2 linked regions of the Homo sapiens genome follow. The protein of the gene in region 1 interacts with the protein of each later gene in a pairwise test. Each region holds a gene or a part of one and is shown in the gene's direction. Other genes may lie near its edges. The genes, in order: TACC3 and ARNT2.

Evidence for each region.
Region 2: the proteins of TACC3 (region 1) and ARNT2 interact in a two-hybrid assay, tested with the Homo sapiens proteins (one large-scale study listed by BioGRID and IntAct).

Annotation. Positions count from the first base shown.
Region 1 is NC_000004.12:1,734,912-1,738,722, forward strand, and holds part of TACC3 (transforming acidic coiled-coil-containing protein 3), read left to right. Parts: intron 1-361; coding exon 362-414; intron 415-819; coding exon 820-923; intron 924-2,329; coding exon 2,330-2,417; intron 2,418-2,686; coding exon 2,687-2,791; coding exon of another isoform or gene 2,792-2,803; intron 2,804-3,436; coding exon of another isoform or gene 3,437-3,481; exon of another isoform or gene 3,482-3,811. UniProt on the Homo sapiens protein: Plays a role in the microtubule-dependent coupling of the nucleus and the centrosome. Involved in the processes that regulate centrosome-mediated interkinetic nuclear migration (INM) of neural progenitors.
Region 2 is NC_000015.10:80,470,160-80,473,970, forward strand, and holds part of ARNT2 (aryl hydrocarbon receptor nuclear translocator 2), read left to right. Parts: intron 1-58; coding exon 59-272; intron 273-3,811. UniProt on the Homo sapiens protein: Transcription factor that plays a role in the development of the hypothalamo-pituitary axis, postnatal brain growth, and visual and renal function. Specifically recognizes the xenobiotic response element (XRE).

The DNA of each region.
Region 1 (3,811 bases):
GTTTTAATCAAAAGTTATATTATCAAAAATTAAAAGACTTGTCTAGGGTAATTTTAAAGACTAATAGTTCTCAACCAGAGCAGTTTTGCCCCCGCCTTTCCCCAGATGTTTGTGGTTGTCACACCTGGAGGTGCTGCTGGCAGGGAGTGGGTAGAGGCTGGGGATGCCGCTCAGCACCCTGCGGTGCCCAGGAGGCGCCTGCCGCAGACAGCAGTCAGGCCCCGAACATCCACACCTCCAAGGGAGGAAATACTGCTGGCTGGAATGATCCTGCCTCACTGAGTGCTGAGGGAGACACCAGCCCGCCGCCCTTAGGGCCCTGGTGAGGGGCGATGGCGGCGGCATGATTCACTCCTCTCAGTTCTAGGCACGGGCGCGGAGGTGGATTACCTGGAGCAGTTTGGAACTTCCTCGGTAGGTACCAGGCAATTCCGCGAAGCCTCACCCACAGGGTGTCCGAGAGCAGCCACGGCAGGTCTTGCCCCCGGAGCGTCCCTTGGTGCCCACGTCCCCCCAGCTGCACACAGGCCCAGGCATTGTGGCGGGCTGTGAATCCAGGGCCCCTTCTGCAGCACCTCCTCTAAGTGGTGTCCTGTGGCAGGGCTCTAGGGCTCTCTACCTGGTGCCTAGCCCAGGATGAAACTCTGACACGCTGTGCTGCTGGGAATGGTGGTGTCTCGGGCAGGGTTGTGGGTGACCGGGGGTGGGAGTGTGCGGGTGACCGGGGGTGGGAGTGTGCAGGTGACCTCCCTGGCCCTTAGCCCCCGTGTGTGTTAGGGGATGGCAGTCAGACCTGATCACTTGCCCTCTTGTCCCCAGTTTAAGGAGTCGGCCTTGAGGAAGCAGTCCTTATACCTCAAGTTCGACCCCCTCCTGAGGGACAGTCCTGGTAGACCAGTGCCCGTGGCCACCGAGACCAGCAGGTATGTGCGCCGGCCCTCCCTCATGCATGAAGCCTTGAGTGTGGGAAGACTGGAGGCTGTTCCTAGGTGTGCTGTCTGCACAGAGGCTTCTAGACCGGGGGGAGATGATCAGAACTGGAAAGGAGCTGTGCTAGGGGTGGGCTGGGCAGCAAGGCCAGAGCAGCCCTTGTGTGTCTGGCAGGAGCAACGGCAGCCTACCCTCCAGCCACAGGGCTGCTGCCTTGCTGGTTACAGCCACCGTTCTAGGTATATTAAAGATCTAAACTTAAATCTTTTAAGAGTACTTCCTCTAAAACAGAGGTCGGCAGGCCAGGCGCGGTGGCTTACGCCTGTAATCCCAGCACTTTGGGAGGCCGAGGTGGATGGATAGCCTCAGCTCAGGAGTTTGCCACCAGCCTGGGCAACATGTTGAAACCCCGTCTCTACTAAAATACAAAAATTAGCCGGGTGTGACGGCATGCACCTGTAGTCTCAGCTACTTGGGAAGCCGAGGCAGGAGAATTGCTTGAACCCAGGAGGCGGAGGTTGCAGTGAGCTGAGATTGCGCCACTGCACTCCAGCCTGGGCAACAGAGTGAGACTCCATCTCAAAAAAAAAAAAAAAAAAAAAAACCAAAAAATAGAGGTCAGCAAACTATCACCTGTGGGCCAGACTTGGCCACTGCCTGTTTGTGTAAAGTTTTATCGTCACAGAGCCATGCCCGTTCCTTTGCAAATTGTGGCAACTTTCACACTACAAGGCCAGAACTGAGTAGTGTGACAGAGGCTGTGTGGCCTTCAAATCCTAACACATGGCCGGGCGCAGTGGCTCACACCTGGAATCCCAGCCCTTTGGGAGGCTGAGGCGGGTGGATCGCCTGAGGTCAGGAGTTTGAGACCAGCCTGGCCAACATAGTGAACCCCCATCTCTACTAAAAATAACAAAAATTAGCCGGGTGAGGCGGCAGGCGCCTGTAATCCCAGCTACTTGGGTTGCTGAAGCAGGAGAATCGGGTGAGCCTGGGAGGCAGGGGTTGCAGGGAGCCGAGATCATGCCACTGCACTCCAATCTGGGTGACAGAGTGAGACCCTGTCTCGGAAAAAGAAAAAAAAAAAGGCTCTGAGCTGTGAACAGCCCCCTGATGAGGCAGCACTGGCTCCGCTCAGCCTGCAGTGGGTAATGAAGCGTCACCGTGCTCTCCCGGAAGGACAAGCAGCCACGTGGGATGGGCAGGTGAGGGAGGGGGGCACGGAGCAGCAGAGAGGCCGGGCATGCTGGATGCGGGTCTGCGTTTTCTACCACTACCCTGACTTGAGTGGTTTTAAACTAAAAAGCAAAGAGCCCGGTTAGCTTGTCCACATGGTCCTCTGTGTCCTACTCAACACTGGGAGGGCCTAGTGACTGAGGCTGCCTCTGCTTGGTGGCAGCATGCACGGTGCAAATGAGACTCCCTCAGGACGTCCGCGGGAAGCCAAGCTTGTGGAGTTCGATTTCTTGGGAGCACTGGACATTCCTGTAAGTCCTTGAGTCCCTCTTGAACTGTCTTGTGTGTGGTCTGAGGGAACGAGTTGTTTTAAGGGCCTATATTTTCTATTCCTGGGGGTCTGAGCCTTTGGTTTTGTTGGGGGCATGGGGCCGCTGTGCTGTTCCCTCGCCGCACTGTCTCGGGTCCCTCATGCACTGTCTGAGGCTCTTGGCCTGTGTGGGCCTTTCCTCCCTCACACTAGGTCAGAGGTAAGAGGCAAGGGCGAAATGGGTTCCTGTTTCATCCCCATCTCCCGCAGGTGCCAGGCCCACCCCCAGGTGTTCCCGCGCCTGGGGGCCCACCCCTGTCCACCGGACCTATAGTGGACCTGCTCCAGTACAGCCAGAAGGACCTGGATGCAGTGGTAAGGACGCAGGTAGTAGCTATTCCACAGAACCTGCAGGCCGCTCTGGGGCTTGGCCAACAGTGGGCAGGGGTCCAACAGCCTGACCCGCCATCCCTGCCATCCCTGCCCCTGCTGGTTGGGGTGGAATTGCAGAGAGCTGCCGGCCCCTGGCCTGTCACTACTGCCCAGGTCGCTGAGGGTCCAGGCTTCCACCCAGTGTCCCCGCAGTCAGCTGCCCACCAGCAGCCTCCCCGGGACTCTCCGGCCTGGGCATGGCGTTGGCCTCTGGTGGCCTTGCAGCAGTGAGTGTGGTTCTTGCTGCCGTGAGCCCGAGTGTCGCCCCTTTCCTCCCGCCCTCCCACGAGTCCAGACGCATCTCCTGGCAGCTTAGGAAGCTCCATCTTCACCCACCCCACATCTGAGGGTCCCGTGCCTTGTCTCCCTCCATCCTCACTGTACATGCCAGGCTTCAGCCTGTTCTAACTCCGGGCCTAAATTGTCCCTAAGAGAGCTGTAGGCACACAAAGGGGCTGGGTGTCTGCAGGCACCACTGTGAGCTACCGTCGCCAGATGGTCCCCAGGGAGGTGCAGACAGGGTGGTTCCGGAGGCCGGCTGGCAGGGCTGGGTTCAAGCCCCAACATCCACACCAGTGTTGTTCACAGTGGCCCCAGGTGTCATCTCCGCAGAGGCCTGTGATGTGGCCCTGACCCCGTACCCCAACAACCTCCTTCCCTGTGTCAGAGCCCGTGTGAGTAACCCAATAGCAGGCCTGGGGACCACAGTGTGGCTGGCCCCCTCCTCTGCAGGCCTGGGCTCCGGGGGCAGGTGGCCCCTGCATGTAACTTATGTTAGAAATGCACAATGCTTGTTCTCTGGTGCCACAAAGAAATAGTGCTCGAACATTAATTTTCTCAGCAAGGCAGTTTTTACTTTCTGCAGAAAGGGTGCCCCTCGCAGATGGAGCAATGGCAAGAGCACACCTGAACAAGGGAGGGGAAGGGGTTCTTATTCCTGACACAGGTAGCCCTACTGCTGTG
Region 2 (3,811 bases), on another chromosome or scaffold:
TCCCTAATCTGATACTTCTCTTTTTTCCCCCTCTCCTGATCTCGTGCTTTCTGGAAAGAGAGAATCATAGTGAAATCGAAAGGCGCAGACGGAACAAGATGACTCAGTACATCACGGAGCTCTCCGACATGGTCCCCACATGCAGCGCACTGGCTCGGAAGCCAGACAAGCTCACCATCCTCCGCATGGCCGTCTCGCACATGAAGTCCATGAGGGGTACAGGGAACAAGTCCACCGATGGCGCGTACAAGCCTTCCTTCCTCACAGAGCAGGTACCCTGGTCATCACATCACCATTGGAAAGCGGGGGGAATCCCAGCGTCACCAAGACGAAATAAACTACGTGGGGAACCAGGGCTCAAGGTTGAGGAAGGAATGAAGCCAACATGTTTTGTTTCCATTTTTCTCCAAGAAGCTGTCTTCAAAAGAGGGTTTGTCTGATCTTTGGGTCTTCTGCTTTTATGTTTCCCATAACCTTAATGGGATGTCACTCAAAAAAATATATTGAGCATTTGAACATCGTGCTCAGCACACTGACACAGGAAGAAGTTAGTAAAAACGCTGTATGCTGGAATTGTGCTGATATGATCAGCCTATGAAAGTGATGGTATATGAAAAAATCTCCACATCACTGATCATTAGAGAAGTGCAAATCAAAACCACTATGAGATACCATCTCACTCCAGTCAGAATGGCTATTACTAAAAAGTCAAAAAGTAACAGATGCTAGTGAGGTTGCAGAGAAAAGGGAACACTTATACACTGCTGGTGGGAGTGTAAACTAGCTCAACCATTGTAGAAAGCAGTGTGGAGGTTCCTCAAAGAGCTAAAAACGGAAATACCATTTGACCCAGCAACCCCATTACTGGGTTTATACCCAAGGGAATATAAATCGTTCTACATAAAGACATATGCTTACGTATGTTCATTGCAGCACTATTCACAATAGCAAAGACATGGACTCAACATAAATGTTCATCAATGACAGATTGGATAAAGATAATGTGGTACATATACACCATAGAATACTACACAGCCATATAAAAGAATGAGATCATGTCCTTTGCAGGAACATGGATGGAGCTGGAGGCCACTATCCTTAGCAAACTAATGCAGGAACAGAAAACCAAATACCACATGTTCCCACTTGTAAGTGGGGGCTGAATGATGAGAACACATGGACACAAAGAGGGGAACAACAGACATTGGAGCCTCCTAGAGGATGGAGGTTGGGAGGAGGGAGAGGATCAGAAAAAATAACTAATGGGTACTGGGCTTAGGATCTGGGTGATGAAATAATTTGTATAACAAATTTTCGTGACATGAGTTTACTCCCTTGGCAGTACGTAACAAACCTGCATGTGTACCCCTGAAAAAAGTTAAAGAAAAAAGACAGTGATGGCAGCAGTAGTGATAATAGTAGCCGCGATCAGAGCACTTAGCCGGCCGGCATTTGCTGGGTGCCTGGTGTGAGTCATAGTTTTCTGTGAAATATCTCATTTACTACTTATTCTAGCCCTGTGAAGAAGCCACTGTTATTTAGCTCTGTTTTATTGATGAGGAAGCTGAGGCTTAGAGTCAGCAGATTGCTCAGGGTTAATCTGCTGCTTAGTGGAGGAGCCAAGATTGGGTCCAGTGAAGACAGGCTGGTAGGACCCCAAAGCCATATTTTTAACACCTACACTAGTCTTTGACTAGTTGGCAAGAAGAAACGCACAAAATGGCTAGTGAGGTCGTATTTTATAAGTGGCTTTACATGAGCCAGAGGCCTGTGTTCAGGGTCTTTGTATTTCCATGTGCTGGTCATAGGGCAAGTTGGCAAATACTCTAAGCTTCAGTGTGCTCATCTGTGAAATGAACATAAAGCTTTTTGCTTTCCTGTCTCCAAGAGCTTTTGCAGGATAAATGAGGTGATGGATTTGAAAGCACTTCATTGTGTATAGCCGGTGGGGGGGCATTGGGGTGGGGAGGTGAAATAATACAGTTGTCAGGGCATGCAGTTAGGAAATGCAAAAGTATGTAGGGTATAGGGTCCTAAAAGTAATGGAGGATTTAACAAGACACAGCGTGTGGCCAAGCTGAAATAGAGTGGAAGTGTCCTGGTATTATCAAGAGGGACTTCTCAGGACAGAGACAGTATTGGCATAGAAAGGAGCCACAAAAAATACCTAGAAAGAGGGGAGCAGAAGGGATTTCACAAAAAGGGAAGAGTGTGTACAGAACCTCACAGGCAGGAATGAAAAAGATTTTGTTGGGAGACCTAATGATTTATTCTGCTAGAGCCGAGACTCGATTTATGTCATGGAAGTTAGGTTTAAAAAGAATAAGGGATGAGGAACTAACGTTTATTACTGTCTGTTCTGTGGCAGACACTTTAGCAAGCACTTCACCTATTTGATCCCTTTCTAAATCATCCCAGTGGTCATGGGAGCCCTCGCTTGGCAGATGTTAGGAAGGTCCAGCAGTGGTAATATGTGCCACTTGGAGGACACAAACTGTGGTGGTCAGGGCAGGAGCTTCAAGCCTCATTTCCACCTCTGTAAAAATAAATGCAGTGATAGCTCCCAGCTCGTGTGGTTGTGGTGAGGAAGGCAACAAGCATAGACTGTTTAACATGGGCCTGAGGTATAATGAAGGGTAAATAGCTGGTAAGTAACAGACAGAAATTATTGAGCACTACTGGCTGCTAGAATCAGTTTTTTGTCTATATTTTTTTAATCCTCACCAAAAGACCTACAGAGTCAAGGTTTGAAATGAATCTCGTTATCTTTAAGTGACTGAGGATTATGAAAGTGGCGTGAAGAGAGAAGGCAGCTATGCAGGTCAGATGAGCCCTACCTTTGTTCCTCTCTCAGCTGCTTGGATGGTGATGATAATGGTTACATTTATGGAGCACCTACTGTGTGCCAGGCCCTTACTAAGTCCTCACACACAGCATCTCATTTAACCTTGCAAGAGCTCACTGAAAAACATTGCTGAGGGCGTGAAGTAACATGCCCAAAGTTGCACAGCTAAGTGGGAGAGCGGTAGGTGATAGTCTCCTTTTACTCCAGAATACATGCTCTTAACCGTGACTGTTTTCTTGGAGTGTAGAGGCTGGTTCTGGATCAGGGCACAGGAACTTGGTAGTGATAGATGGTCTCCCAGGGAATACACATCAGGGAGGAGGGTGGAAAAAAGAGGGTCCGTGATGCGAGCAGGGCTTCATCCCATAAGACCTCCCCACAGTCTTTGCAAACTGGACAAAAATGTGAATTCATGAGTAAAGTCATTCAGTCTCCACTTCCTCTCCTCCAGTGACAAAGAATTCTGTACTTCCCCAGGCACCCTCTTCCGTTTTTAATTCTCTTAACAGCTCTTTCTGTTGGGAAGATCATCCAAAAACTGAAAATAAAAATGCTGACCGAATTCCCTGAACTAATTAAGCATCTAGGTGACGCAGAACAGCAAAAGTGCAAAGCAAGAGAAATGGGCAAAATAAACTTATCCTTAAAAAATGCTTGTACCAACTGCTTCTGCCCTGGTTTCCCAGGCAGAGGATGTTAGAATTCCTCCCCAGCCAAGGGCTTAGACACATTTACAAAGCTCCCTGGGTTCTGCTCATCAGCATATCAATGTTCCCTAGTCTCTGGGTCCTTGTACCCTGCTCAGTTACTGGGATTTGGGGCGCCAGACTCTCCACCTTTTGCCTTCACTCTGCTGGCTGTCCATGTGCTTTACAGTGGGGTTTTCACATAAGATTACATTCAAACAAAAGATTGCCAGCCAAAAGATGTTTGCTAGCTGCTGACCTAGAAGGATACCTTTGTCCT